Regions from separate parts of the Homo sapiens genome. Here regions 1, 2, 3, 4 and 6 are each linked to region 5. The links come from fine-mapping of genetic effects on gene expression. A gene starts in region 5. Each other region holds a variant in brackets. All regions are shown on one strand. Distances are from middle to middle. Region 1 overlaps TFDP1 (transcription factor Dp-1). Region 2 overlaps SLC9D1 (solute carrier family 9 member D1). Region 3 has its middle 30 kb from the start of TFDP1. Region 4 has its middle 22 kb from the start of TFDP1. Region 5 holds the start of SLC9D1 (solute carrier family 9 member D1). Region 6 overlaps SLC9D1 (solute carrier family 9 member D1).

Evidence for each region. PIP is the estimated chance that this variant, and not a neighbour inherited with it, causes the effect.
Region 1: its variant is fine-mapped to the expression of SLC9D1 in cerebellar hemisphere (GTEx, PIP 0.94).
Region 2: its variant is fine-mapped to the expression of SLC9D1 in skeletal muscle (GTEx, PIP above 0.99). The same link has a PIP of 0.9 or more in atrial appendage and left ventricle.
Region 3: its variant is fine-mapped to the expression of SLC9D1 in cerebellar hemisphere (GTEx, PIP above 0.99).
Region 4: its variant is fine-mapped to the expression of SLC9D1 in cerebellum (GTEx, PIP above 0.99).
Region 6: its variant is fine-mapped to the expression of SLC9D1 in whole blood (INTERVAL, PIP above 0.99).

Annotation. Positions count from the first base shown.
Region 1 is chr13:113,589,520-113,594,589 of GRCh38, reverse strand. All of the region lies in intron 2 of TFDP1 (transcription factor Dp-1), which reads right to left. Among named protein-coding and RNA genes, the nearest start is that of TFDP1, 7.3 kb to the right of the region's middle. The variant AACAG/G (reference allele first, on the strand shown) is at 2,432.
Region 2 is chr13:113,535,292-113,540,361 of GRCh38, reverse strand. SLC9D1 (solute carrier family 9 member D1) reads right to left here. Exons shown (of 13, transcript NM_017905.6): 10 at 855-1,005. Among named protein-coding and RNA genes, the nearest start is that of SLC9D1, 47 kb to the right of the region's middle. RefSeq lists a silencer at 1,724-1,912. The variant T/C (reference allele first, on the strand shown) is at 2,552.
Region 3 is chr13:113,552,075-113,557,144 of GRCh38, reverse strand. No RefSeq gene overlaps it. Among named protein-coding and RNA genes, the nearest start is that of TFDP1, 30 kb to the left of the region's middle. RefSeq lists an enhancer at 4,910-5,070. The variant C/AC (reference allele first, on the strand shown) is at 2,498.
Region 4 is chr13:113,559,777-113,564,846 of GRCh38, reverse strand. No RefSeq gene overlaps it. Among named protein-coding and RNA genes, the nearest start is that of TFDP1, 22 kb to the left of the region's middle. The variant G/A (reference allele first, on the strand shown) is at 2,852.
Region 5 is chr13:113,488,824-113,493,893 of GRCh38, reverse strand. SLC9D1 (solute carrier family 9 member D1) reads right to left here and starts at 2,873. Exons shown (of 13, transcript NM_017905.6): 1 at 2,621-2,873. DCUN1D2 (defective in cullin neddylation 1 domain containing 2) reads left to right here and starts at 3,183. Exons shown (of 7, transcript NM_001014283.2): 1 at 3,183-3,227. The coding sequence starts at 3,225. RefSeq lists a silencer at 2,563-3,482 and an enhancer at 3,713-4,012.
Region 6 is chr13:113,529,091-113,534,160 of GRCh38, reverse strand. It overlaps SLC9D1 (solute carrier family 9 member D1), which reads right to left. Exons shown (of 13, transcript NM_017905.6): 9 at 1-116. Among named protein-coding and RNA genes, the nearest start is that of SLC9D1, 41 kb to the right of the region's middle. The variant G/T (reference allele first, on the strand shown) is at 2,205.

The DNA.
Region 1 (5,070 bases), 100 kb before region 5:
GACTCATGCACACCACACCTATCACCTGGGCAGGGCAGAGGACCCACACACAGCACACCTGTCACCTGGGCAGGGCTGAGGACCCGCGCACACCATACCTGTCACCTGGACAGGGCTGAGGATCAGCACACAGCACACCTGTCACCTGGGCAGGGCTGAGGATCAGCACACAGCACACCTGTCACCTGGGCAGGGCTGAGGACCCACACGCATCACGCCTGACACCTGTGTATAGCTGAGGACGCGTGCACAGCACACCTGTCACCTGGGCAGGGTGAGGACCCACACACAGGACACCTGCCACCTGGACAGGGCTGAGGACCCACGTACACCACACCTGTCACCTGGGCACGGCTGAGGACCCGTGTACACCACACCTGTCACCTGGCTGGGTGAGGACCTGCACACAGCACACCTGTCACCTGGGCACGGCTGAGGACCCGCGCACACCACACCTATCACCTGGGCAGGGCTGAGGACCCACGTACACCACACCTGTCACCTGGGCACGGCTGAGGACCCGTGTACACCACACCTGTCACCTGGGTGGGTGAGGACCTGCACACAGCACAACTGTCACCTGGGCAGGGTGAGGACCCACACACAGCACAACTGTCACCTGGGCAGGGTGAGGACCCACACACAGCACACCTGTCACCTGGGCACGGCTGAGGACCCGCACACACCACACCTGTCACCTGGACAGGGCTGAGGATCAGCACACAGCACACCTGTCACCTGGGCAGGGCTGAGGACCCACACGCATCACGCCTGACACCTGTGTATAGCTGAGGACGCGTGCACAGCACACCTGTCACCTGGGCACGGCTGAGGACCCGCGCACACCACACCTATCACCTGGGCAGGGCTGAGGACCCACGTACACCACACCTGTCACCTGGGCACAGCTGAGGACCCGTGTACACCACACCTGTCACCTGGGTGGGTGAGGACCTGCACACAGCACAACTGTCACCTGGGCAGGGTGAGGACCCACACACAGCACACCTGTCACCTGGGCACGGCTGAGGACCCGCACACACCACACCTGTCACCTGGGCAGGGTGAGGACCCACACACAGCACACCTGTCACCTGGGCACGGCTGAGGACCCGCGCACACCACACCTGTCACCTGGACAGGGCTGAGGATCAGCACACAGCACACCTGTCACCTGGGCAGGGCTGAGGACCCGCACACACACCTGTCACCTGGGCAGGGTGAGGACCCACACACAGCACACCTGTCACCTGGGCAGGGCTGAGGACCTGCGCACACCACACCTGTCACCTGGACAGGGCTGAGGACCCACACGCATCACGCCTGACACCTGTGTATAGCTGAGGACGCGTGCACAGCACACCTGTCACCTGGACAGGGCTGAGGATCAGCACACAGCACACCTGTCACCTGGGCAGGGTGAGGACCCACACACAGCACACCTGTCACCTGGGCAGGGCTGAGGACCCACACACAGCACACCTGTCACCTGGGCAGGGCTGAGGACCCGCGCACACCACACCTGTCACCTGGGCAGGGCTGAGGACCCACACGCATCACGCCTGACACCTGTGTATAGCTGAGGACGCGTGCACAGCACACCTGTCACCTGGGCAGGGCTGAGAACCAGCACACAGCACGCCTGTCACCTGGGCAGGGCTGAGGACCAGCACACAGCACACCTGTCACCTGGGCAGGGCTGAGGACCCGTGCACACCACAACTGTCTCTTGGGCACAGCTGAAGACCAGCACACACCACACCTGTCACCTGGGCAGGGCTGAAGACCCACAGACACCACAACTGTCTCCTGGGCAGGGCTGAGGACCAGCATATGCCACACCTGTCACCTGGGCAGGAGGGGAGGGCCAGGGATGTGTTGGCAATGCTGGATTCTGGGCTGACCCATTCAGGTTTCTGACCCTCTCCTGCTTCCCCATTCACTGGAGCGGATCACACTGTCTCTTTTCCTCAGACCCCAGTGACGCGATGTTAATGAACAGAAGACCAGGGTGCACAGGGCAAGCACCTGTGTTAAAAGATACTGTATCCCAAAGCCACAGGGGACACACAAGGTTTTCATTCATCAGACCAGAATCCCTTAGAAACTGGACCATAGAAAAACAGGATTCATGGCCAGGCGCGGTGGCTCACGCCTGGAATCCCAGCACTCTGGGAGGCCAAGGCGGGCGGATCACCTGAGGTCGGGAGTTCAAGACCAGCCTGAGCAACATGAAGAAACCCCGTCTCTACTAAAAATACAAAAAATTAGCAGGGTATGGTGGCGCATGCCTGTAATCCCAGCTACTTGGGAGGCTGAGGTCAGAGAATCGCTTGAACCCGGGAGACAGAGGTTGTGGTGAGCCAAGATCGTGCCATTGCACTCCAGCCTGGGCAACAAGAACGAAACTCCGTCTCGAAACAAACAAACA[AACAG/G]GATTCACATAAAAGACTAACGGGAAGAGGCAGATATAACTCTTCATCCTTGAGTCTCAAAATTACCTGCAGCACATGTGAATAGTGCCCATGACCTGTGCGACAACTTAAAAGCCATAGTCCCTGTCCTCACAGGAGCCCTGAAGCGGAGTCGGGATGCTGCGGGAATCTCAGCCAGTCGGGAAAAAGGTACAAAGGGCGGATGCTTTTCCAGGCTTGGGCTACACACAAAGATACAGAGAGCAGTGCATGGCCAGTACCCGAACAACCAGAATCATCTGAGTAAGACACCTGGGGGATGAGGGGTCACCTAATTCAGCCTCTAATTCAGCCAACGCTGACATCTGCCCTTCCCCTCGCAGATCCATCCCCACACGTAGTCTAAGCCACCTGCTGCTACCAGTCCTCCTCTCTAAGCAAAACTTGACAAATCTAGTCTCTTATGACAAACAGCAGAAAGCCACACTGTAAGTCAAGCTAAATATCAACTGCAAATCTGGATTTTCTAATTGTTCTACAACAAAGTATTTTTTAATGTAAATACCAAGAGTGAAAAGTTTTTAACATCCCCTAAAGAGCACCTGATACTTCTACTGCAAATCGAGCTGTGCACCAAAGGTGAGGTTTCCAATTCTTACACAACGAACTCCAGAGATTTCTTCCAAATACCAAAAGTAAAGAGCTAACAAAGAGCTGATTATGTAAGAAAAAAGATGTCCTTTTTTATTCTTTGAATTTTATACCAGATGTTCCTATAATACCTCTTTTAAAGCATGTTTTAGGGGCAAAACTTTTTTCTTTTTTTTTTTTTTTGAGATGAAGTCTTGCTCTTGTCACCCAGGCTGGAGTGCAATGGCGTGATCTCGGCTCACTGCAACCTCCGCCTCCCGGGTTCAAGCGATTCTCCTTCTCAGCCTCGAGAGTAGCTGGGATTACAGGCGCCCGCCACCACGCCCAGCTAATTTCTGTATGTTTAGTAGAGACAGGGTTTTGCCATGTTGGCCAGACTGGTCTCGAACTCCTGACCTCAGGTGATCCACCCGCCTTGGCCTCCGGGATTACAGGCATGAGCCACCGTGCCCAGCAGGGGCAAAACTTTTAATTAACCTATAATTTTCTTTTTCTTTTTTTTTTTTTTTTTTTTTGAGACAGAGTCTCGCTCTGTCGCCCAGGCTGGAGTGCAGTGGCGTGATCTCTGCTCACTGCAAGCTCCGCCTCCCGAGTTCACGCCATTCTCCTAACTCAGCCTCCCCAGTAGCTGGGACTACAGGCGCCCACCACCATGCCTGGCTAATTTTTTGTATTTTTAGTGGAGAAGGGGTTTCACCCTCTTAGCCAGGATGGTCTCAATCTCCTGACCTTGTGATCCACCTGCCTCGGCCTCCCAAAGTGCTGGGATTACAGGCGTGAGCCACTGCGCCCGGCCCAACCTATAATTTTCTAATTTTTAATATCCCTTCAGAGTTTCTCTAACCTCATCCTATGTAGAAAAAAAAAATCCTGAAATATGAAAAGACTCTTGTAAAAACAAGCACGTCATCATAGATTTCTTCAACACTTAAACCTGAGGGGGCTAAACTGACAACCTTCTTAACCTCAAATGTAAAGTTGTTTCTTTATGAGGACAAAAGAAGGCCTGAGTCGCTGAATCCTGTTCCCAGAACTCACTCCTTCAAGCACTGAAGGAAACAGCAGTTTGTTGCTGCATCAGGTTCACCTCTTCAGGCCTGAACTTCACCATCCAGGTCTGTAAAAGGACACCTGGTGGTAGACCCTTAGAGGAGCTCATTGGTCCCCTCTTGGCATTAGCAGAGCCTCGTGACAGCATCACTCAAACGCCTCCATGGTGGGACGCACACAGTTCTCTTGGTCCCCAGCTCTCAATTTCAGGATTTCCCCATAAACTCACAGGACACAAACAGGCACCACAGAACGGCTTTCACAACCAAGGCACGTGAATACCGGGCAGTGACGTCCACAGCCACGTTCTCTGCACAGGGAGCTGACCAGGTCCAAGTGCCCGCACAGCCCAAGAGCGAGTTCAGATGCCCTGCATCTTTACCAATGGCAGGAGGAGCTTGGAGAGGCGAACGGGACCCCAGAAACAGCCCCACACGGGCTACATCCCGAAGTCTTACAGCAAAAGCATCCCTGTAATGTTTGATGAATTCATCATCTGCCTGCCTTCCCACTTACAAACTTTCATGACACTGGACAATCGTGTGTGACGACAGGATGTTCCGAGGTAGGGAGGGGAGAGGCAGAGCTCTGCCTGATCCCACCAAGGGTCATGCTGCCTGGGCAGGCAGGAAACTTGGCCGCAGGCTGAGATGCCAGTGCCAAGCCACACTCCCTCACCCAAGGGCCCTGCCAGCCCAGCTCTAGAACAACTTGAGCCCCTGCAGCTGGACTGACTCGTGACAAGGGTCTGTCCGACTCTAAGGAGGTGCCAAAGCACCTTCCAAGACTGAATCTGAGGACGGTTCCGAGCACCACCGGTACCTGCAACGGGAGCCCACAGATCTGCGGGTCAGAGCCACCCTGTTCAGGAACCAGAGGACAGCCTCCCTAGGCCCTGAGGCGGAGGGCCTGAGATGTTTCGAGGACAGTTCAGAAACTCAAAGAGTCTGTACGG
Region 2 (5,070 bases), 46 kb before region 5:
GACACCATTGGTAGGACAGTAAATTAGTTTAGCCGCGATGGAAAGTCTGGAGATTTCTCAAATAACTGCAAACAGAATTACCATTCGACCCAGCAATCCCACTGCTGAGTTTGCGCCCAAAGGAACATACGTCCTTCTGCCATAAAGACACACGCACTCACACGTTCATCACCGCGCCATTCACAGCAGCAAAGACACAGAATCGGCCCAGATTGTGAATTCCAAGGATCCCACTGTCCATCAACCGTGGACCAGATAAAGAAAATGTGGTACATATACATCAGGGAATGTTACGCAACCGTAACAGAATGAAATCACGTCCTTTGCAGCAACACGGATGCAGCTGGAGGCCGTTCTCCTCAGGGAATTAACACCAGAACAGAGCACCAGATACCACATGTTCTCACTTACAAGTGGGAGCTCAACACCGAGTACACGTGGACACAAAGACGGGAGCAAGAGACACTGGGGCCTGGGCAAGGTGGAGGCTGGGAGGAGGAGGGTGAGGATTAAAACACTGCCGAGGGTCCTATGCTTATTACCTGGGTGGCAAAATCATCTGTACACCAAAGCCCTGTGACACTCACTACCCGTGTCACAGACCCACACACGTACCCTGAGCCTAAAGGAAAAGCTGGACAGAAGAAACAGTATAATAAAATAAGATTTCTCTGCGCTCTATAAAGCAGAAAACAGTTTCTGGCTACTAGCAATCCAAATTGAAATATGCTGAATACACTTAATTTTTAAGATAACCATTTTTGCTATATAAATATATATGCACGTAAACATATTACAGAACCACTCTGCATACGTTTAACCAACACAATCATAATGTAAAGAAGGAAGATTACCTATGGAGGCGAAGAAAACGATGGCCAGGAAGTCGCGGATGGGTTCGATGGAGGTGGCGATCTCCTCGGTGACCACGGGGCCCTGAGAGGAGACGAGCGCTCCAGCCAGGAAACAGCCCAGCTCCATGGAGACGTCCAGCAGCTCCGTGACCTGAGAGAGGCAGGACGCAGCTTTACATGAGACCCCACAGTGCACCAGGGTCACCCCCATCCCAAGGCCACCCCGAGACCCAGCAGAGCCACCACGACAAAACACAGAAGCTGCACAAACAGAGCGTGTGTGTGTCTGGTCCTGGGTCGTCTGCTGGGTCTGAGAGGTGACATGTGGAGGCTGCTATTAGTTGAATTAACCTTACTGGGAGAAAAAAATTGTTTAAAAATATTTGAAACAAATATCCATACAGATTGCGCTGAAATTTTTGAATGAGAATATTTTCCAACTGTTTTAAATATTTGTGATACATTTTCTTGACCTTGAATCAGAATAGCCCGGTGGGAGTGTTAGAAACGCATTCCCACTACCAGCCTCAAAGCAGAGAGAAAGCGACAGGACGACAAGCAACAGCCCCGGGAGGGCACGAAGCCAGCGAGAAGCATCGGCGTGTCCACGGCGGCTGATCTGATACCCAGGTTTGCAGCCACATCAGCGCGCCGGCCGGACGGCCGCGACACGGGAGCCTCAGCGCAGCTCTGCGAAACGCAGGCTTATGGCAGCCTTCCGGATGACGCACGGCTGACACCGGCCAACCTGAAAGATGATTTTTATCTTGAGAAAACAAAACTGTAGACGATAGCAGCATCAGACGAAAAGAAAAGAAACTTGTAAAGAACTACGATTTATAATGGCAACAAAAACATCACATCCTGAGGATTCAACCCAAAAGAAGGCCTGCACCTGACACTGCAAGACACAGAGACCCACGAAAGACGGAAGACTCAGATGACAGCGCCAAGGGCTCAGCACGGCGGAGCGGCGGATGCTCCCTCCCCTGGCCAACAGACGCACAGGAGCGCCAAGAGACTCATGTGTGTGAAACTGACCAGCTGAATCTAAAAACTCGAGTGGAATTTGGAAAGAGCACGAATAGAGCCAAGACGACCCTAGCACAGAACAAAGCTGGACCCAAACACGGAGATCAAGCTGCGGTGCAGCCGAGGGCAGGTGGGCAGAGTCAGAGGGGCATGTGCACACACACACACACGCACATGTGCCACGGGTACACACACCACACACAAAGCAGACACACACGAACACATACCACACACACACCACACAAAGCACATATGTATGCATGCACACATGCCACACACACGTACACAAACCACACACCACATAAAGTACACATTCATGCATGTACACATGCCACACCAAAGCACACACATGCATGCACAAACACATACATGCACATGTAACATTCCACACAAGGCAAACGAATGCATGCACATGTACACACATCACATAAAGCATACCCCACACATGTACACATGCCACAAAGCACACACATGTACACACACCACAAAGCATACATGTACACACCACAAAGCACACACATGCATGCACACAGGTACACATGCCATGCACAAAGAACACACACATGCACATGCACGCACACACACACGGCTACTTGGTTTTTGACAGGGTGATGCTATAGAAGGGGGGAAGGAGGTCTTTTCAACGCATGGCATTCAGAAACGCA[T/C]GTGAATGAATGAATCCTCATCCACTCCCTCACTTCCAACACAACCGAAGCTCACCTCTGGGTGGACTGAAGATCTAATGAGAAAAGCACAGCAGAACGCTCACTGACAACAGTAAAGAGCATCTTCACGACCCAGGGGCAGGCGGATCTTTCACACAGAACACAGAAGATAGCCACGAAGAAAACAATTCATAAGCGATGATGCTGAAATTAAGAACTTCTGTTCATCAAAAGACACCGTTAAGAGAGTGAAAAGGCGAGTCACAAACTGCAAGACATTTGCAAAAACATATCTGACATGCTGGAATGGAATGTTTTTCAGCCATAAAAAGGGGCGAAGTGCTGGTGCGCACGGCGACGCGGCCAGGCCTGGAGGACGTGGTGCTAAGTGGAAGCCAGACACGGAAGCCGCCACGCGACACGGCCAGAAGCAGCGGCCCACGGGGCCAGGAAGTGGCTCCATGGCCTCGAGGAGCTGGGGGGAGAACTGAGCGCCATGGGGATTCCTTTGGGGAGGTGGATATAATTGGGTAGTGGTGATGGTGGCAAAACATTTTGAAGGCTGACTTTCAAATGATTAAAATGGCGAATTTTATGTGAATTTCATCTCAGTAAATAAATTTTTAAGAAGGACAAAAAAATCTGCCGGCATATAAAAAATAATTCCTACAAATGAGAAGAGAATCCTCACCCTACAGAATAACGACCTGGAGGCTTTAATAGGAACACCGCCAGGACAACACCCAGGTGCCACTGAGCTTTGGAAAGGGCTTGAGGGACCAGCCATCGGGAAGTGGACGCTGGAGCCCCCATCAGAGCCCTGAGATGCTCCACTCCTGGAGCAAGTGCAAGGAGGCTGTGGGGCACGGCGTGCTCACGGCACAGCAGCAGGACGGGCTGGCATGGCGACTTTGGGGAAACCCACGTCATGGCTACGGCTGAGCTCCTGTTTACTGTGGCCCTGCAACCCTACCTCCACAGGCACTCTACTAGGCTCATCAGCAGTGAAAGCACCTTCCAGAAACACGAGAATGGGCAGCAGCTCTAAATGGAAACGAATCCTAAGACTGAACAGTGGAAAGAATACATTGTGGCATCGGGTGCAGATGTGCAGAAGGCCCAGCACCCCAAGCAGCTGGCAGCAGGTGCACGGTGAGGGCTGCCCAGAGAGCGAGAAAACCTGAGAGCCGGGCAGAGTCACTGTAATGGAAGAAGCCACTGGGAGGGCAACACGGAAGTTGTCCAGATAAGACAATTCTGCTGGGAGTTATTTTCAAAGAGAAAAATACTCTGGAATGGATAAAACAATGTAAGAATTTAAATAAGTCACACTCTTGAAATAGTTAAAATCACTACAACCAGAAGCAAATCATAATTTCCTCCCAGGTTTACAAAACATTAGCAGGCAATTATATATAAGAAACAATTTTTGTTAATTTACTTTTTTTAAATGGAAACTTTTTTTTTTTTGAGGCAGTCTTGCTCTATCAACTCTGCCTCTGCCTCCTGGGTTCAAGTGATTCTCTTGCCTCAGCCTCCCAAGTGTCTGGGACTGCAGGCAGGCGCCACCATGCCCAGGTAATTTTTGTATTTTTGGTAGAGACGGGGTTTCACCATGTTGGCCAAGCTGGTCTCGAACTCCTGACCTCAGAAGATCTACCCACCTCGGCCTCCCAAAGTGCTGCGATTACAGGCGTGAGCCACCGCGCCCAGCCGGAAACTTTTTATTTTGAGATAATTATATATTAACCTGCAGTTTTAAGAGTAATACAAAGTCCTCATTACCCTTTAGTTTCCCCAATGGTAACATCTTGCCAAATTACAGCACAAGATCCCACTCAGGTGCTGATACGGACACAGCAAAGACAGCGAGTGCCATCCATCCCCAGTCCCTCCCCAGACCCCGACTCAGGTGCCGATATAGACACAGCAAACACAGCGAATGCCATCCCCATCCCCTCCCCAGACCCCCACTCAGGTGCCGATACAGACACAGCGAAGACAGCGAGTGCCATCCCCAGCCCCTCCCCAGACTGCCCATCCTCAATTCCTGGGAACCACGAGCCTTTCCTCAACTTCAGAATCTTCTCGCCTCATAAATGTGACATAAAAAGAACCACACAGTACGCAGCCTTTGGGGGCTGCCTGCCCACTCTGCGCAGTTCTCGGAGGTGTGTGCCGGTGGTTTTACTGCTGGGTGGCGTTCCGTGGTATGGACATAGCTCAGTTTGTTGAACATTTATTTACCCACTGAAGTACCTTTGGACTGTTTATGGCTAATACGAATAAAGCTGCTATAAACACCTGTGTACAGGCTACTGTGTGAACACGGCTTCATTTCTCTGGGATAAACAGCAGGAAGAGCACCTGCCGGGCTGAACAGTGACGGTGCACAGGTGCACTGTTGGGACAATGGTGACGGTGCCCAGGTGCGCTGTCAGGACTACTGAGACTCTATGGGGGTCCAGGAGCATCTCCCGCCACTCTCATGTAAAGACTGTCGTCTCGGTAAGCAGAAG
Region 3 (5,070 bases), 63 kb before region 5:
GCACACCTACACACATCTGCACATACTCACCTGTGCACGCACGTCCACCCATGCACAACTGTACACACACACCTGTACACACACCTGTACACCCACACACCTACACATACCTGTGCACACACACCTGCACACACACACACCTGTGTAGGTAGAGGACCAGTGGTTTGTTTCCTGGAGAGCTCCCTTCCTCCAAGCTGACCAGCTGCTCTCTCCCCAGGTGGGCAGCTCTTGTCCCAGAACTCTGCTTGGAATCCCCTCAGGGTGGTGCTCTGTGTGCTGGACCCCAAGCCATCTTTCTTGGTTTTGAAACATTTTCTACAGCAGCTTCCAGAGGAGGGGCTCATGACTCTGAAGACATCTTTATTATGCTCTTCACGGCTCATTCTCCAGGTATTGGATCCTAGGTGGAATTCATTTTCCTTGGGAATCTCAACAGCTTCACTCTACTGCTTTCGTGTTGTTGAGAAGCCCAAGGCCTTTTTATCTCTGTCCCTTTGCCTGAGAGCTGATTTAGTTTCTTTCTGAAAGCTATTTAGAACTTTATTCAGTGTTCTGAAATTTTGTGATGATGTGATTTGTAGGGGACTTTTTTCATTTACTGTGTGGGTATCTGTGGTGCCCATATGACTGAGACAAAGAAATGGAAAATGGCAGGGAAAATGTAAGCAAATTAGAGGATCAAACCAGGCAGTCCATCATCCAGCCAAAAGAGGGTCCAGAAAAAGAGAACCAAAGACACCAGGGACAGAGCTGCCAGAAGCCACCTGGGAAAGAACCCAGGTCTCAGGAGCATTCGCCAAGCTCCTAGGTTCCACCGTCTCTTCCATCTCCCCTGAGCGTTTTTATCTTGGTAATTTTTTTTTTTTCATTTCAAAGAGATTTTTTTCTTGATCATTTTTCATGATATTCTGTTCTTATTTTATGGATGTACTATCCCTGACAGTGTATTAATGGTAAGTTTTTATTTTATTTATTTATTGTTCTTTTTTCTTGGAGACAGACTCTCGCTTTGTCGCCCAGGCTGGAGTGCAGTGGTGTGATCTCGCTCACTGCAACCTCTGTCTCCCAGGTTCAAGCGATTCTCATGCCTCAGCCTCCCGAGTAGCTGGGACTACAGTTGGGTGCCACTATGCCGGGCCACACACCTGGCTTTTTTTTTTTTTTTTTGTAGTTTTAGTAGAGACAGGGTTTCACCATGTGGCCCAGGCTGGTCTTGAACTCCTGAGCTCAGGCAATCCGCCCACCTCAGCCTCCCAATGTGCTAGGCGTGAGTCACTGCGCCTGGCCTAATGATAGGTTTTTAAAACATTTTCCATGACATTTTTTTCTGCTTCCTGAATTCTCTGTTTTCATTCTTCTGCTTTGGTCTTACCTTTAGGAAAGCCCTAGGTGGAGGTTGTTCACTCATATCCATATATATATATATATATATATATATACATTCTTTTTTGAGACAGGTCTCACTCTGTTGCTCAGGTTGGAGTGCGGTGGCATGATGATGGCTCACTGTAGCCTCGATTTTCCGGGCTCAGGCCATCCTCCCACCTCCTGAGTAGCTGAGACTACCTGAGCACCACCACACCCACCTAATTTTTGTGTTTTTCATAGAAACAAGGTCTCATCATGTTGCCCAGCCTGGTCTCAAACTCCTGGGCTCAAGCGATACATCTGCCTGAGCCTCCAAAAGCACTGGGACTTCAGAGGCATGAGCCTGGGGAGCAGCAAGCCTTGTTCATTCACATGGAAGAGTTAAGATGCTAAAATGCTCACTGGAAGTTCTGTGAAAGGGTGGGTTGTCTCCGGGGGTGTCATTCCCCAAGGTGAGCTGATGTCAGGTCTCCTGTCTTGGCTCACCCGGAGCGTCTAGAGGACAGTCCTGCAGCCCCTTGCCTTGTGGAAGTTCATGAGGTAAAGTCACAGTTCTGGGAGGAAGCCACACCTCTCTGTCCCAACCCCCTGGATTATAGGTGAAAATAAATTTTAACTTCTGATAATCTGATGCCCAAATTCTTGATGACTTTAGGGAGCCCAGTGAGTCTCCTCTTCTTTCCTGAAAAGCCCTAGCTCTTCACCATGTTTTCACCACTCACTTTTGCCCAGCTCATGCTCAGGGGTTCGCTTCTTCATGCTCAACTGGTAAAAATCACAGGTGGCCCGATTTCATCATACCTTTTCAAAGCGTTGACGACGCCAGGCACGGTGGCTCATGCCTGTAATCCCAGCACTTTGGGAGGCCGAGGCGGGCAGATCACCTGAGGTCAGGAGTTCAAGACCTGCCTGGCCAACATGGTGAAACCCCGTCTCTACAAAAATACAAAAAGTAGCCGGGTATGATGGTGGTAGCCTGTAATCCCAGCTACTTTGGAGGCTGAGGCAGGAGAATCGCTTGATCCCGGGAGGCGGAGGTTGCAGTGAGCCGAGATCGCACCATCACATTCCAGCCTGGGTGACTGAGCGAGACCCCATCTCAAAAAAACGAACAAACAACAACAAAAAA[C/AC]CAAAGTGTTGACGATGACCGATCGATTGATTGGAAAGAGGAAACCCAAGCCCAATGGCTTTGTTCTTTTTTATTTTACTTTTGTTTTCTTTTCTACAGGAAGGAGGCTTTGTTCTTGCAAATGTAGGGGGAGCATTCCGGCCCAGGGGAAGCTCAGTGAGTAGCGGGTGTGGATTTGCCCTGCCGGACTTGGATGCATGGCGTGGCACAATTGTTTATTCTCCTTAATTAAATTTTGGCTGTGAGTTCCCATCTACCTGGCCAGAAATTTAACCCCAATCATTTTTATGGGTGTCTCTCCTGCTCTCAGAATCAAACCAGAACATTCTGGAGAGAACCTCCAGTCTTCAGGCCCCTGTGGGGGAACCTAGGTGGTGTGGGGCCAGGTGTCCACACCCCAGTGCAGAAACGGATGTCGGTTCCCCTTCCATGTCCCATGGGAACCTCTGGCACAGCTCCCTGGCAGTGGGTCAGGGTCCTCTCCCCAGGCCCTCATGACGCCCAGAGGACCCGCCCCTCACTGAGAAGCCCCACCCTCGGCCGACCCCTCAATCCTTTGAACACTCCATCTCTTTTGCTACTTAAACCAAAGCCAAAAAGACGCCCCATCACCCTCCCCCGGGCGAGGGAAGGCAGAGGTCACAGGACACAAACCTGTCGCTGCTCTCAGGAGAAGCATCCTCCTTCCTTCTGGAAGGGATTGGAAAATGAGACCAGCCTCTCTGTCCAGTCCCCTGGCAGTGGGTTCAGCTTTCCATGGCCAGCCTGAGAGCTTCCAGGTGACTTGCTGGAGGGGGAGGAGCCCAGAGGTTTCCCTGCTGAGCTGTGAAAGGGCTTCCTGAGGGCGCTGAGAGATTGAGCAAAAGGCAGACAGGGAGGAAGGGGAAACACTGGGTGCCCAGGGGGATAGCATCTGTACATCTCAGGCCCTGGAGGGCTGGGCCTCACGGTGACATGAGCATGTGTGGCTGCAACCCCGGAGTCCTGGACGGAGGTGAAGGCACCCAGGATGAAAGGACTCAGGTGGGGTGGGCTTCGCACGGACCCCTAAACTCCAGAAGATTAGCAGGGACATAGGCAAGGCACTGGAATCACACAGGAGAAGAGTCCCTGGGAAGCTGGCAGCAGCAGTGTTATTTGAAGGACACCACAGTCATGGTGTGAGCTCTGCACTGGAGGAGCGCCCCGTCCCGGGCACAGGCCGTGCTGAAGAATGAGGAGCATCACAGACTCGGGGACTCAGGCATGTTTGTCTGTTCTCACGCCTTCCCCAAGACTGGGTAATTTATAAAGGAAACAGGTTTAATTGACTTGCAGTTCTCCATGGCTGGGGAGACCTCAGGAAACACAATCACGGCAGAAGGGGAAGCAGACACATCCTTATTCACAAGGCAGCAGGATGGAGAAGCGAGAGCGCGAGAACAAACTGCCACTTTTAAAACCGTCAGACCTTGTGAGAACTCACTATCATGAGAACAGCCTGGGGGACATCTGCCCCCATGATCCAATCACCTCCCTCGGTCAACCCATGACGATTACAATTCAAAATGAGATTTGGGTGGGGACACAGCCAAACCATATCATCAGGGAAGTATGGGGTGGGGAAGCCAGGAGAGGAGAAGGCAGCAGGGAGGAACAGGGAGACTCACGCGGCCCACCAGGAACTCAGGGACGCGGCTCCAGGCCACGGCCATGTCCTTGCGGTGCACTGCAGGGCACCAAGGGTGGGCACTGCCTAGTCCTGTGGGGATGAGCACGTGGTTACAGGAATGGGCTGAACTGAAGGAATTATAAAGAAAACCAAAATGGGTTTCAAAATTTTTTCTTTAAAATATCTCCATGCAGTTTTTATAAGTTCCCATGACATTAATAAAAGTATTGTAAGTTTCATTCATACAAAAAATACATATGAACTGCCTATTATGTATTATGTACCAGTGTTAGGATTTTTTTATCCAAATATTTTTCCCAGTTTTGCTTGGCTTTCAAATTTGTTCACGATGCTTTCTGATATGCTGAAATTTTACATTTTCATGTGAAATAGAATTTTCAAATAGTACAATTTCTTTCATTGTTCAATATCCCAAGAACCTTTAAGTATCCTGTTTATAAATATTCAATTGACCCATGTTTACGGTCTAGCCTCGCAGTGCTGCCGTGTGGGCCTGTGGGTCTCCCCCCAAGCTCTTACTTTCCCGGGGCCTGTCCGAGTTGAGCTGGGTGCTGTCCGAGTCGAGCTGGGTGTTGTTGGGTAATACAGCTCTGCATGGGCAGACGGGAGGCAGCTTTTGGGCAGCGGGGAAAGGACACAGAAGCAGAAATATCAAAGAAGAAATAAAACTGGCCTTGCAGACACAGAGGCCTCGCTGGTTGAGAATGGCTGGTTTTGGGGGGAGTGTGAAGGCCGTGTAAGCTCATGGCTGGAGCTCGAGACAGGAGACTGGACCACCCAGGTCAGTGCTCTGGGGACACATGGCCCAGGCACTCCCTGCTGCCAGCTGTTGTTCAGGTTGTTATCGAGGCCGCCAACACCCCCTCAGCCTCAAGCATTCAGGTTGGAAGCTCACTTCCAT
Region 4 (5,070 bases), 71 kb before region 5:
TTGGGAGGGTCCCTTCATCTGAGGGGATGGTCTGAGGCTCGAGGGGAGCGGCTGCAGGTCTGACGGGAGGGTCCGTGGGTCTGAGAGGAGGGTCTGACAGAAAGGTCTGTGGGTATGAAGGGAGGGCCTGAGGATAGTTTGAGGGGAGCATCTGAAGGAAGAGGAGGGTTTGAAGGGAGGGGAGGGTCTGTGGATCTATGGGAAGTGGCTGTGGGTTGGGGAGGGTCTGCGGGTCTGAGGGGAGGGTCTGAAGGTAGGGATAGTCCGTGGGTCTGTGGGGAAGGTCTGTGGGGTGGGGAGGTTATGGGTCTGAGGGGAAGGTCTCCGAGTCTGTGGGAAGGGTCTGTGGGTCTGAGGGGACGGCTTCGGGTCTGTGGATATGTTGGGGGGGTCTGTGGGAAGTGTCTCTCGGTCTGTGGAAAGGGTCTGTGGGGCCGAGGGAAGCACTTGTGGGTCTTTGCGGATGATCTGAGGGGTGGATCTCTCAGGCTCTGAGTTAACTGCAGACGTGGTAAGTGCTGCGGAGGAGGTGTTAGGAGCTACAAAAATGCCACAGAGAGAGACCTCGCAATGTTGTTGTCGGGAAAGTTGATCCAAGAAAGTGTCGTGGATTTAAGATCTCAGGGATGAGTGGAGAGAGACAGCTGGGGTCGTGTGGACCGGAGGGAATTGGCGAGAAGTTCTTTAAGTTTGATGGAGGACTCTGAAATTTATCTTCAGAGTGAGTGGGAGCTGAGGAAGAGTTTGGGGCAAGTGGATGGCTCTTTGTTGTTGTTGTTTTTAACTTTTTGTTTTGAATGAATTTGAGACTTACTAAAAAGTTGCAGAAATAGTACCCAGAGTTCCCACATAATCCTCCCTGGCTTCCCTCATATCCGTGTCCAGCATGGCCACGACACAGATATTAAACCCAGCACCCAGTGTGACACCGTGGCCCATGCCTGTAATCCCACAATTTTGGGAGAGCAAGGCAGGAGGATCACTTGAGCCCAGGAGTTCAAGACCAGCCTGGGCAACACAATGAGGTCTCATCTCTCCAAAAAATAAAATCAAATTACCCGGGTGTGGTGGTGTGCGCCTGTGGTCCCAGCTACTTGAGTGGGGAGGATCGCTTGAGCCCAGGAGCTGGAGGCTGCAGTGAGTCATGATTGTACCACTGCACTCCAGCCTGGGTGACAGAGCCAGACCCTGTGTCAGCCCTAACCATCCTTGTCCTGGGGCCTGGGCATGGATTTTGCTGTCTCGTGTTCTCAGGACTGTATGAAGTCAAGCCCATTTGGCAAGCATCCTGTGGAGGTAAGGCTGTCTCTCAGTGGCTCCTGAGCTGATGTGTCCAACTACAGGTCCAGGTGGTGTCTGCCGAGTCTCCTGGTCAAATTGCCGTCCTTCCTCTGTAGGGGATAATCGTCCTGGAGACACTGGGAGACCAAATCCTGATTCTCCTGGAACTTCTCTGATTTTGGCATCCATGGGGGTCTTGTCAGCGGCAATCAGTTCCGTGGACTTTGCCTCGTGGTGATTTTCTGTTTCCCCCTTTCCTCTGGCATTTATCCATCGAGGTTCTCCTGCAGGGAAGAGCAGTGGGTCCTTCTTCCCCGTTTGCGTGTTGACATGGTCAGTGACGACAGCAGTGTGAGCTTGCATGCATTTATTTTATTCTACAGTTTGCAATCAGCACGGCCATTGTGCATCTTGTTGCTCACACGACCCAAGGTTGGCCCCTATGTCATCTCAGGGAATGACATTGACAGATTTACAGTTTAAAGCCCCCGCTTGCAGTGTGGGAGTGGGGTGTAACTGGGCAGGGATGGACGCAGTGAGGTAAGGCCCAGACTTCCCATGGTTACAATGTCATCTCAGTGACTAATGAGGAGCCGAGAGCTTCCTCAGTATTGAAAGCCCTTCTTCGCTGACCTAGCCCTGGGTAGAATGTGGGTTTAAAAAGCCTAATGTGGTACATGCTTGGGTCCCTCTGATGTTCTAGAAACAAAACCTGCTTTCCTTGAGACTTGCTTTCTTGTATTTGCTTGAAGACAACGCGACCTCTCAGCGTGGCAATCCCAGAATCAGGTCACTGGACAACTTGTTAATTTTGAGCACGGTGACTGGGATTTCAAGGTAGAGACTTGGTCCACCCGCCGGCTTTCAAGAGTGAGGAGCATGGTGCTGCCTTCTAACTATGCTTTTTAACAGGATTCGGTTTGCAGTGCCACAAACAAAGTGAGCCACTGGGAGGCAGCAGAGGCCTTGGAGGGGAGGTGCATCTGGCAGCCACAGAGCTCATTGCGGGACCACCCACAGGCACGCGGAGCATCTTTGCCTTGTGGAGCCTGGCACCAGGACTGCCGGGAGGGGAAGAGGCTCAGCCCCCACACCCGGGGAACCTATGCCACACCGGGGCCCTCTCCAGCCTCACTGGCAGTGTCTCTGGGACCACTCCCCAGATTACTTGTCCTGGGGTCAGCTCGGGCAGGGAGGCAGAGTAGCCCTACAAGCCCTCTGCAAACACACACATGCTCTCTCCACAAACAGAGTAGAACCGCACCACATGGATTCTGCATAACACCACACTGGGGCCCTGGATGTTTCCCCCTCATCCACCTTGTTTTGAATGTAGAACGAAGTCCAAAGTTTTTCTTCTAACAGTTCCAGGCAGGCTGGCATATCGAATCAATCCAAACCCAGTCTGCCTGTCCTCAGATCCCCTCTGCACCACAAAGCCCAGGCAGTATGATCACCCTTTGCCAGAGGCCCTCACAGCTGGGCCTTCACCTGCGACCTGGGTTCCACACACTGCTTTATCTGCATGAAGCTGGGGGGCAGAATTGGCCAACGAGAGGTGCAGCCACAC[G/A]GGAGTGGCCTGGGCCTTCGGGAAAGCCTTTAGACATTGTGTGGACTGTAGAGAAGCTCCTGGGGCCCAGTGCCAGTGTTGCTCGTGCTTGGGCACCTCTCCTGCCGCATCATCCCTGGCAGTGACGTCCACCGGCTCTCAGCCCAGATGGGGAGACCATCGGTCTTTATCTCTGAGTAAAACTCAATCTGCTTCCACCTGCTGGTGGGGATTCTGTGGTCTGCAACTGAGCCTCTGAAACCGAGGGCAGGATAGGAGGGACGTGGAGTGGGCGCTACGTGGTGGGTGCTTGACACTCCTTCCTGGTTGTGTGACCGTGAGCCAGTGACAGCCTAAGCAGAGGGAGCTGTGATGAAGCTTGTAGCTGTAGCGCGCCTGGGCCCCAGCCTTGCAGCTCCAGGGGTGGAGCTCTTCCAGGAACAAACTCTTCTCTGCCACTCTGTGGACAGAAGGCCCTGTCCACGTAGGGGGCTCTCACTGCCATTCACATGCCTTGACCCTTCACTCCCTTCGTGAGATTCAGAGCAGCCCTTCTGAGAACAAAGCGCAGTGAACATCTCTGGAGACACCAAAGTCCCCTCGAGTGAGAAACAGACTCCTGAACGCAGGTTTTCAGGATGTGAACCCCGGCCCAGAGCCTTACCCATGGATGAGGTGCCCATGCAGTCCCCAGGGTGCCTTTGACCTCTTATTCTGTAACTTCACATTTCAATTAAAGTGTTGAGGGAAGATGGCCATGACCAACACCAACTCAAAGCTGTCCATCAATACAGTGAAGAAAACAGCCTCTCAAGTCAGCTTTCAGTGTGTGAAAGGTGGGCAGCCCTATTACAGGGCTTTCTCTGTGAATGTCACTGTCCTGTTGAGCAGCCTTGAGTGAACAACTGGACCTCCAGGGCCACCATTTCCTCCCTTGCAAACCGTCATGCTAGTCAGCCCCGGCGTCCAGGACCGACTCACAAGGCCACGTCTTGGTGAGCAGCGGGGTCTTGGCCGCCGTTCGGCTGGGTAGGAAGTGCTCTCTGGCTTCTGCAGCTGGCTCACTTTCTGTATGCCACCCACCCACAGGCCCGTGGGACCCGTCTGTCTGTCCTTGGGCTGTCTCCCTGTGCCCGGGATGTGGCAGCAGTGGCCAGTGTCCTGAGGCCCTGCCCTCTGTGAAGCTACCACGTCCTGGCAGCTGGGCCCTTCTCTTGCCCTCCGGTCCCAACTCTGAAGTCTGAGAAGCTTTGTCCAGCCCCTCCCAGCTTCTGCCTACATTGCATGCCTGCCTCCCCTTTCGCCCTCTCAGCAGAGTCTGCAAATGTTCCTGCTGCTTAGGCTTTTGTAAAACAAACACCAGGAACACAGGAAACTAGGTTTGTCCTGGGGTAGGGGCTGCCAAGAACACCCTGAGATGCTGGGGGAGGAAATGCCCATCTCAAAACCTGCGCAACCCCGTCCAGACCTGCGACCCTGTCCAGACCCACGACCCTGTCCAGACCTTCGCGACCCCGTCCAGACCTGTGCGACCCCATCCAGACCTGTGCAACCCCGTCCAGACCCGCGACCCCGTCCAGACCCGCGACCCGGTCCAAAGCTGTGCGACCCCATCCAGACCTGCGACCCCGTCCAGACCTGCGACCCCGTCCAGACCCGTGACCCCATCCAGACCCTCGACCCGGTCCAAAGCTGTGCGACCCCGTCCAGACCTGCGACCCCGTCCAGACCTGCGACCCCGTCCAGACCCGTGACCCCGTCCAGACCCGCGACCCCGTCCAGACCCTCGACCCGGTCCAAAGCTGTGCGACCCCGTCCAGACCTGCGACCCCGTCCAGACCTGCGACCCCGTCCAGACCCGTGACCCCATCCAGACCTGCGACCCCATCCAGACCCACGACCCTGTCCAGACCCGCGACCCCGTCCAGACCTGCGTGTGCTCAGGGGGCGCAAGCCAACACTGACACCTGAAGCGAGCATGGGCTTAGAGAGAAAGCCCCCCAGAAATGTGCTCTTTTCCCACGGGGTGCAGGTGACACCTGCTGGGACACATCGGCTTATGGACACATTGGCTCGTAGGCACGTCTCACCCCAGACCACTGAAGCAGCGGAGAGACTTCAGTGATAAATCACCCCCTTTATCAACCTTTAAATTTGAAACAGTGATGCCCCCCTTCACCCCACCCTTTTTTTTTTCTTTTTGAGATGGAGTCTCGCTCTGTCTCCCAGGCTGGAGTGCA
Region 5 (5,070 bases):
AGAACTAAAAAAGCCTGGAGGCCAGATGACTCGGTGAAGGCTCAGCGACTGTCTGCACCCCAGCAGGTCCTGAAGACAGTACTGTGTTAGACAACAGTACTGATCAGAATTACAAGCAAAAGTCACCAAGAAAAGACTATATTCTGGTTAGAAAGTGTTCAATTCAAAACATTCTTGGAGACTGACTCCCAAAAGGAGAAGCACACTCCACAGAGAATTCACTTACCTAGAACAGGTAACTTCCTAACAAGATAGGATAAATGATAATGTGCTGTTCCAATCACTCAATTTTATGTTAGTTTCAATACAACTTTAAGTACACGTGTACAACTTTAAGTACACATTTACCACCTTAAAAACAAACAATGAGGCAATCACTTAGTCATGCCTAGCCATATAGCTGAGCTGTTATTTTAATGACTCACTCAACTGCTAAGCTTCTCTCGGTTGGTCCAACGGAGCTAAATAAATCAACAGCTACTTCACAAGTGAACTTTTAGTATTTTCCAGAACCAAGACAGAAATCTGAGATGCTTTGCTTACACTTCCCAGTTTCCCCAAAAGATCCCAAAAAGTGATTCTTTGATGGATTTTATGCTTCAGAAAAATAAGTTTCAACACAGCTCATGTGTGAATGACACCTCTATGTTCATTTCTGGTTCCTTCCTCAATCAGGTTCCTAAAATTAGTTGTCCCTCTAAGGGAGCTATAATTTTTATGAGAAACCTTTGAGGATTTTAGTTGTAGTTATACTAAAATTTCCCACTGAAACATACTCATAACATGAAACTGAAATTATTTATGGACCCTTAAAATACAAATCACCTTTATTCAAACTCATTTCATTTTATCTTCAAACTTGCCTCCAAAATCCTACTGACTACTAAATTGTAGCATGTTTTTTGAGCAAATTAGTAAACATCTTTAGCTGTTCTAGTTATTAAAAAGACACTTTGGATTCCTGTAATGTGTTTTTTTTGTTGTTGTTGCTGTTTGAGACGGAGTTTTGCTCTTGTCACCCAGGCTGGAGTGCAGTGTTGTGATCTCAGCTCACTGCAACCTTTGCCTCCCGGGTTCAAGCAATTCTCCTGCCTCAGCCTCCCAAGTAGCTGGAATTACAGGCGCTCGCCACCACACCCAGCTAATTTTTGTATTTTTAGTAGAGACGGTGTTTTGCCATGTTGGCCAGGCTGGTCTCAAACTCCTGACCTCAGGTGATCCACCCACCTCAGCCTCCCAAAGTGCTGGGATTACTTTTTAAATAATGAATTCTTAGAATTTCTGCATCTTGAGCAATTGATACACATAACAATGCGGATGTATCTCAAGGCTGAGTGAAAAAAAATCTCAATTTTATTGAGAAGACACACAGGTGTAGATTCACACTCACTAGTGCATGTATAGTTGGTGCAATCTCAACAGGTCAGGGGATTTGATCAAAGAAAATTCCCCACATATACTATGGTTTTGCAAGGTGCTACCATTGGAGAAAACAGGGCAAAGGCACTCTGTAGGATTTCTCTGTATTACTCCTTACAACTTCATGTGATCTACAACCATCTCAAAATAAAAAGGTTTTCAAATTCTACCTAAGACCAGGTGCGGTGGTTAATGCCACTGCTGTATTACGACACAATTATCTGTATTCCCAGCGCTCTGGGAGGCTGAGGTGGGCGAACTGCTTGAGGTCAGGAGTTGGAGATCATCCTGGGCAACACAGCAAGACCCTGTCTCTATTAAAAATGAAATAATTAGCCGGGCGTGATGCTCCCTGTGGCCCCAGCTCCTGGGGAGGCTGAGGCGGGAGAATCGCTTGAGCCTTGACCAGCCACTGCACTCCAGCCTGGGCGACAGCAAAACTCTGTCTCAACAACCACAAAAAAGCTTTAGAATATTTAAGTCAAGCCTGTAGGAGAAAAAAACTACAAATATTTCACAAGTAATCCAATCATTAAGACACTCCTTTTGAAAAAGCCGGTAAATAAGATAAATTTGGAAGACAGAATAATCAGAAAAACAGGCAGTGAATAGGGACCCGATACGCAGCGGTCTTGCTTCCCCCGCGCAGGCGTCCACACCCTGGGTCATGGACACCGTGAGGAGCCGTTAGGAGTCACAGGAGGGGGGCCAGGGACAGGGCTGCATCTCTGCGGCCGGCCCTGGAGGCCCCGAGTCCACCCGGGCGGCCAGGGTGGGAACGCAGGTTCCATTCCAGGTTAGAACGTGGGCCTCAGCGAAGAGCGCCTAGGCAAGGCCTGGAGGAGCGGGACCCCAGGCCACACAGACCACCCGACCCCGGGAGACAATACCTGCAAGAAAAGGGGAGCCCCGAGGAGAGAGAGAGGGGAGGTGAGCCCCAGGGAGGGAGAGAGAGGAGGGGAGCCCCAGGGAGGGAGGGAAGGAAGGAAGGGGACCCCTGGGAAGGGAAGAAGGGAATGGGAGCCCCGGGGAGGGAGAGAGGGGAGCCCCAGGGAGGGAGGGAAGGAAGGAAGGGGACCCTTGGGAAGGGAAGAAGGGAAGGTGAGCCCCGGGGAGGGAGAGAGGGGAGGGGAGCCCCAGGGAGGGAGGGAAGGAAGGGGACCCCGGGAAAGAGCCCCGGATGGACGGGCCTGGTGCTCACCGGGACGCAGGGATCCGCGCCCGCCCGTCCGGCCCGAGCATCACCGTTCCGCGGCCTGGGCCGGGCTCTGAGGCGCCAGGACCCGAGGGGCGGAGGGGGACGCTGTCTCCCGCCTCGGAGCGCAGCGCCGGAGGGCTTCCTTGCATCCCTTCCCAGGCGGGACCAGGGAGGCCGGGAGGCCGGGAGTCCGGGAGGGAGCGGCCGCCGCCCTGCCCAGCACCGCCCCCGCTCAGCCAAGCCGACCCGGACTCCCGCCCAGCCGCAGTCACTGCCCCCTTTAAGAGGCGGGGCGTGGGCGGGTCCCGTCGGCCGCGGGCGGCGAGCACTTCCTGGCCGGCGTGGGGCCTGGCAGCCGCAGGCTGGCGTTGGACCCCGCAGGGGCGAGCCAAGGCCCTCGCAGAGGGCTGGACGCGCAGGGGCTGTGGGGCGCGAGCTCCCGTGGGCCCCCGGGCGGCGCTGAGCATGCCGGGAGTGGGAGTCCCCGCGGCCGGCTCCCGGCACTGCCCCGGAGCCGAGGGCCGCGGCCGTCCGAGGACGAGGGCGGAGCCGCCGCCGCGCCTGCGCAGAAGGCCGGGGCCGGCCAGAAGCGGGCGGCGCGGGGGAGATGGTAGGTGGCCCGGCGTCGCCTCTGCCCGTCGGGGTCGGGGTCGGGGTCGGGCCCCAAGGTCGGCGCAGGCGGCGCGCTGGATGTGGGAGGCCGAGCCCAGCGAGCTGCGCGGGGCGTTCCGCGTGGATCCGAGGGAGGAACGCGCCGCGGGCCCGCGAGCCGGAGCGGTGGCGTCGGAGGCGCGGGACCGCGGGGAGCGCGGGTTTGACCCGGAGCCGCGAGGGACGACCGGGAGTGAGCGGAGGGCGGGGGCCGGGAGGAACTGTAGGGGCCTTGGGGCAGGGGCCGGGGCCGAGCGGGAACCCAGGCCGGGGGCTTCCCAGGGCGGCTTCGAAACGGGCAGTCGAGGCGGGCGAGGGCTCGGCTGCTCCTGCGGGCGTCTGTGCAGATGCTGAGGCTGTTGACCAAAACAGCGCAAGGAAGGAATCCGCGAGAAGCTCAGATTCGCGGGGGAGGCCCTGCTGCCGGGAGGGGAGGGAGAGGCACAGCGGGGCCCTAGCGCGGGCTCTAGCCGGGAGCTGTAGCGTGGCTGTAGGTGTGCATCTGTGGAGCTGGTAGAGTTCCGCAGCGCAGGAGGGAGGCTGCTGGAGGTGCACATCAGTTACTTTGAAATGTGGTGGAAATGGTGATGGATGGGATTTATTCAGTCCACATCGGTTCAGAGGCCAGCAAGGTGCTGCTGGGTGTGACTGGTGCTGGGCCAGGCATGATCTTGGCGTTGAGGGAGTTGATGCCCCAGCAGGGGAGACAGGCACCAGATGCACAATTGTTTGACCACAGTTGGGACAAAGGCTAAGGCACGGGTTCCAGGAACTTGTAGGATGCGGCTGTGGGAGTGGTGTCAGATGCTGAGGGTGTGAGTTGAACTGTGGAGAATTTCTCTGGAAATTAGCCAGAGAAAAAGTGAGGTTCCGGGGCAGCCAGCCGTGTGCGGCTCCAGGCAGAAGAAACAGAATGCACAGACCCTTAGTGGTAGGCGATGATGACGTATAGGAGCTGAAAGATTGTCCTGGCTAAGGCACAGAGAGCCACCGGAGAAGGGACACGGTAACGTGTAGAGGGGAGTGGAGGGTGAGGACAAGCTTCAGGATGGGAGAAGAGCCACAAAGGAGACTGAGAGGGGGCTGGTAGGAGAAACCAGGACACTAGAATGTGTCGAAACCAAGAGGATGGAGTTTAAAGGAGGAGGGAGCCATCAGCAGTGCTGAACAAAAGAGCAGCTGAAAAGATCCCACTGACCGCAGCAGCCGAGCTTTTGTGACCTTTAGGGGTCACTGCGGAGGCCGGGCTGGAGCCAGGTAGCCTGAGTTAGGATGCACACCTGGGCAGGTAGAGATAGCTTGCTCCAGCTTTTAGGAGGACAGGGGCAGAGTGGACAGGAACTTAGTTTGGGGAAAACTTGAACATGTTCAGGATGCTGGAGAGGAGCGTTCCACTGCTGCCGAGGTTGGAGATCCAAGAGCAGGGATGAATTTAACTCCCCCTCCCTCTAGCGTGCTGTATACCGAAACAGAGTGAAAGTGATCCATAAACTTACGTAGTTTATTCGATCAACATGATTGGCCCGCCAGCCCCGGGTAAGTTGACCCTAAGGACATTTTAAGAGTAATTTCTTTCCATTTTACATATGGGTATCCTTGGTGCCAGATTATATGAGTCGTATTTCACAAGGTCACAATTAAAGTGTTTGAGACTTTTTTATAGTTTAGAGATTTTATTTGCTGTTTCCACTGGATTGTCCAGATTTTTATTTCAAGAATTGTGTACATTTTAACAGAAATAATGAAACCTAGAAAATGCCTTCCCCCCACCCCATGTACACACTTTAAAAGCTGGCCTTAAT
Region 6 (5,070 bases), 40 kb before region 5:
GATAATAGGGTCCAATGAGATACTTCTTTATAACAAGACATAAAAGAAAAACCGCCGCTAGTGAAAAAAGAATCTGACCAATCAAAACCAGGATTCGGAGAACTTCCACGACAATGCTGGGAAAGAAAAAAGAGACGTGATTTCACTTCCAAAACACAGTTCTCTAAAACTCAATAAAATAATCTTTCAGTTTTTTTCTTTAACATGCTACAAAATAAATTACCTGAATCATACACATCTTTATTTTCAAATACAAAAACACCTATGAATCATACTCATCTCAGAAATTAAGTTGTGTTGAGCCAAAGGTGGAAGCTGCATTGGTTTGCAGTCAATACTCTGGGGTGAATGCGTATTCTAGAATGTGAAAATTCTCGACTGACAGCGTTCCTATCTCAGCTGATGCCTGACGATAAAATTCCTCGCCAGGCCTCAGCCGCACATCAAAGTCTCCGCCAGGCAGCGGTTGCTCTCCGTGCCCCACCGCAGTCGCCTGATGGACGAACTCCAGCGACCGTCAGCAAGGCACTCCCGAGGCAGCCAGCTCTGAGGTCTGTGTCTGTGATTCAGACACAGAGAAAGTGATCCTTTGCTATGTTCTGTTTAGAATATACTACCCAGATCTCAGAATAGATCACCATCTCAGCCAGCGGACATCCACTATCTGCCGTCTTCACAAATATACCTATATTTAACCTTAGCCTTCCACCACTCAGGCCACAATTCTGGTGAAAGTTTCCTCGGTGGAGGAAACCTATGATTCCCAAGGGCGTCAGCCTCTGCAGTCTGGCTTAAAGCAGAAGTGCTGGAAACGCAAATCTCAAACTGCCATGATTCCTTCGGGGAACCACAGCAGAGCTGGGCTTGAAGCAGAGAGGGATGGAATGAAGGGATGGAATGAAGGGATGGAATGAAGGGATCAACAACGGCCACAGAAGCAGCTGTGAAGGAGCATCATTCAGAGCTCGCTGCAGGGCCCACGTCTGCAACTTCAGGAGGGAGGCAGCGTCCTTCAGAGCTCGCTGCAGGGCCCACGTCTGCGACTTCAGTAGGAGGGAGGCAGCGTCCTTCAGAGCTCGCTGCAGGGCCCACGTCTGCGACTTCAGGAGGGAGGCAGCGTCCTTCAGAGCTCGCTGCAGGGCCCACGTCTGCGACTTCAGGAGGGAGGCAGCGTCCTTCAGAGCTCGCTGCAGGGCCCACGTCTGCGACTTCAGGAGGGAGGCAGCGTCCTTCAGAGCTCGCTGCAGGGCCCACGTCTGCGACTTCAGTAGGAGGGAGGCAGCGTCCTTCAGAGCTCGCTGCAGGGCCCACGTCTGCGACTTCAGGAGGGAGGCAGCGTCCTTCAGAGCTCGCTGCAGGGCCCACGTCTGCGACTTAGAAGGAGGGAGGCAGCGTCCTTCAGAGCTCACTGCAGGGCCCAAGTCCGCGACTCAGAGAGAGGCCCCTTTCTGCAGCCCTGGCAGGAACGGAGACAGACTCACGGCCAAGCAGACCAGGCCTGCCGCACTCCTGACAGCTTTGCCACACTGCCAGGCCCACGTCTGGCCCTGGGCCCAGCACCGTGGTCCCTGCCTGGGCTGCCACCCCTTCCCCCACAGCTCCAGTGGCCTCCTCCTGATCCATCTGCTCTCCACACAGAGGCCCAGACAGCTCATCAGGACCCTCAATCAGCTCCTGGACGCTGGGATGGAACCCAGGCTTCTCTGCCCTGCCATGCCCTTCCACTGCCCCAGCCCACCCACACAGGCCACAGAGCCCCTTGCCTGGGAGGTCCCTACCCTAGACTCTTCTCCCAACAGGCTTAGCTGCATTCCTCAAATTCCAGCCACATCTCCAAAGGTAGAGCCTGTGCGTCTGGGGGCTCACGGCTGCTCACCAGCTCCTCTTCCTGTTTGAATCATTCGCAGGGCGGTTCCCTGCTGCGGATGTCTTGTCTACCACTCATTTGTGCATCATTCATTCATTGCCTCTCCAAAACACAACAGCAGCTCCCCACATGGGGAACGTCCTCTGCTGAGCTCACCCTTGCATCCTGAGCCCCTAGAGCACTGTGTGCAGAGCACTGTGTGCCACCTATTATGGCAGCCTGGTAAGAGCTGTACGATCCCCACTGCTACGTCACAGATGAGAACAGGGGCAGAGACCAGGTGATCTGCTCCAGGCCACACGCCCAGTGCAGAGAGCTGGGGACAACTCAGGTATCT[G/T]GCTCCAGGACCAAGCCCCTAACGGCTACACAAGCTCTCCACAGCCACCATCCCCAGGGTTTGGATTTAGGTCTAATTCCCAGAAGACTCCCACAGTGTCCATTAAATGCACAGTGATGAGGGCTCAGAAAGATGCCAATCAGAAGCCACAGTGCGCTCAACTCTGACCTCTTTGAAAGACAATCACCGTGACAAGTTTCTCAGGATTCCGGCTTGCCGCCGTGCCACCGGCAGGTCCACGTGCGTGCTGCTCTTGATCTGCATGTACGGGGCGCCGTGTCACCTGCAGGTCCACACGCGTGCTGCTCTTGATCTGCACGTACGGGGCGCCGTGCCACCTGCAGGTCCACACGCGTGTGCTGCTCTTGATCTGCATGTACGGGGTGCCGTGCCACCTGCAGGTCCACGCGTGTGCTGCTCTTGATCTGCACGTACGGGGCGCCGTGTCACCTGCAGGTCCACACGCATGCTGCTCTTGATCTGTATGTACAGGGCGCCGTGCCACCTGCAGGTCCACGCGTGTGCTGCTCTTGATCTGCACATACGGGGCGCCGTGTCCACGGCTGTTCTGACTGTCTCAGCGTGTTTGGACAAGCTTCCCATCAGCACATCTGACCTGCGGACAGGTGAGTGGACAAGCTTCCCATCAGCACGTCTGGCCCGCGGACAGGTGAGTGGACAAGCTTCCCATCAGCATGTCTGGCCAGCGGACAGGTGAGGAAGGGCTCCCTGGCGGGACGCACCATCATTTGCTCAGCCAGATGCAAGGGCTGTCCCGGTTCTCACACTGACTCCACGGCCATCCTGGTTCTTGGGCGCTGCGGTGACCAAGGAGCCTGTGGGTCCACTGATGGTGGCAGTGGGTGCTCACTAAGGGAGCCGGGTGCCTCCCACTATGACAGGTGCTGTCTGGTGGGCCGCCAGGAAGTTGCTCCAATTCCCATCCCAACAATGATGCCCAAGGTACCCCACTTCCCAACCTGGGCACCACCCAGCTTCTAATGGTGCCCAGTCTGATGGGCGGGTGGTGCCATCACCCTTCTTTGGTGTGAGGGTGGGTGTTTCCTACTTTACTCAAGTCTAATAGCTGCTTTGCTGCTGACCTGTTTTCAAACTCAGTTATTCATATTTTTCTTATTAAGGTATAGGAGACCTTTATAAAATAAGAAACATAAGCCTCTGTCTTTAATATGGGCATAAACATCTGTTTTGCTTTATTACAGCCTTCTGTGTTCTGTTCTTTACCTGTGAAATATTTTGAGGGAAAGAGTTCTTTCCTCTAGGAATGATCAAGGTTAATTCTGAATAAAGCTTAATAAGAAAGCAGAGTCTATTATGTTGCAACTAATTTTATTTCTTTGATATTTTAAATATAAATTTTCCCTCGTTATTAAAATTGAAAGGGAGGTTTTCCTAAATTACAGAAAAGTATATATAGTAGAAAAAACTTAGTACAAATCTACCAGTCTACTAGTAGAAAATCATTAACACCTTGTTATATATACATATATATATTTCTAGTCTCTATTCATGTTCTTCTATGTCTAATTAAAATATCGTATATATTTTTAACAGCTATGATATATAATTCACTTACCATACAACTTACCCATTTAAAGTATACAATTCAATGGTTTCCAGCATATTCACAAAATTACACAACTATTACCACAATCCATGTTAGAATACTTTCATCATCCCAAAAAGAAACCCTGTACCCATCAGCACTTCCTCCCCATCTCCCCCAACCTCCCCACCCTCCGGCAACCAGTAATTCATCCTGTCTGTACGGACTGGCCTAGTCTGGACGTTGGTATGAATGGAATCACACAGCGTGTGGACTTTTTGTCCGGTTCTTTCAGAAGCATCGTGCTTCATCTGTGCTATAGGATGAATCAATGTTCATTCTATATTATGGCTGAATAATATTCCTTTGCTGAATATAGTATGTTTTGTATATCTACCTGTTATCTAATTGACATTTGAGTTCTTAATACTTTTTAACTATACGAATAATGCTGCTTGAACATTCAGGTACAAGTTTTTCATTGTGGTGAAACTCTCATACAATAAAATGTACCATGTTAACCATTTCTGAGTGTGTAACTCTGTGGTATCAGGTGGATTCACACTGTTGTACCCCCATCACCACCGTGTATCAGTCTGAATGTGGATGTGTGTTTTTGTTTCTTGCGGGTAAATACCGAGGAGCGAACAGCTGGGTCAAATGGGAGCTCTGTGTTAGCGTCAGGAGGAACGTGGTCTACAATTCTGACTCTGTTTCTGTTTCTTTTGTTTTTTTTTTTTGAGATAGAGTCTTGCTCTGTCGCCCAAGCTGGAGTGCAGTGTCGTGATCTCAGCTCACTGCAACCTCTGCCTCCTGGGTTCAAGTGATTCTCCTGCCTCAGCCTCCCGAGTAGCTGGGAATACAGGCACGTGCCACCATGCCTGGCTAATTTTTTGTATTTTTAGTAGAGACGGGGTTTCACCGTGTTAGCCAGGATGGTCTCGATCTCCTGACCTCGTGATCCGCCCCCCTCAGCCTCCCAAAGCGCTAGGATGACAGGCGGAAGCCGCTGCGCCCGGCTCTCAAGCCATCTTCCTGCCTCAGCCTCCCAAAGCGCTGGGATGACAGCGTGAGCCGCTGCACCCGGCCCGATTCTGTTTCTTAAGTTTAACAGCATTACAGAGTATTTTTCCAAGTCATCAACTCTTTGTAAACATGAAGTGTCATGACTGAATTAGAACAATTTCGGTGGGATCAATACCTGTACTGCATTAATTTTTTGAATTGGAAAAAAGGGAAAAAAAAGCTTTAAAAGTGTTCTGATTAAGACAATGTCTTATGCCAGCATGTTAGACCTGC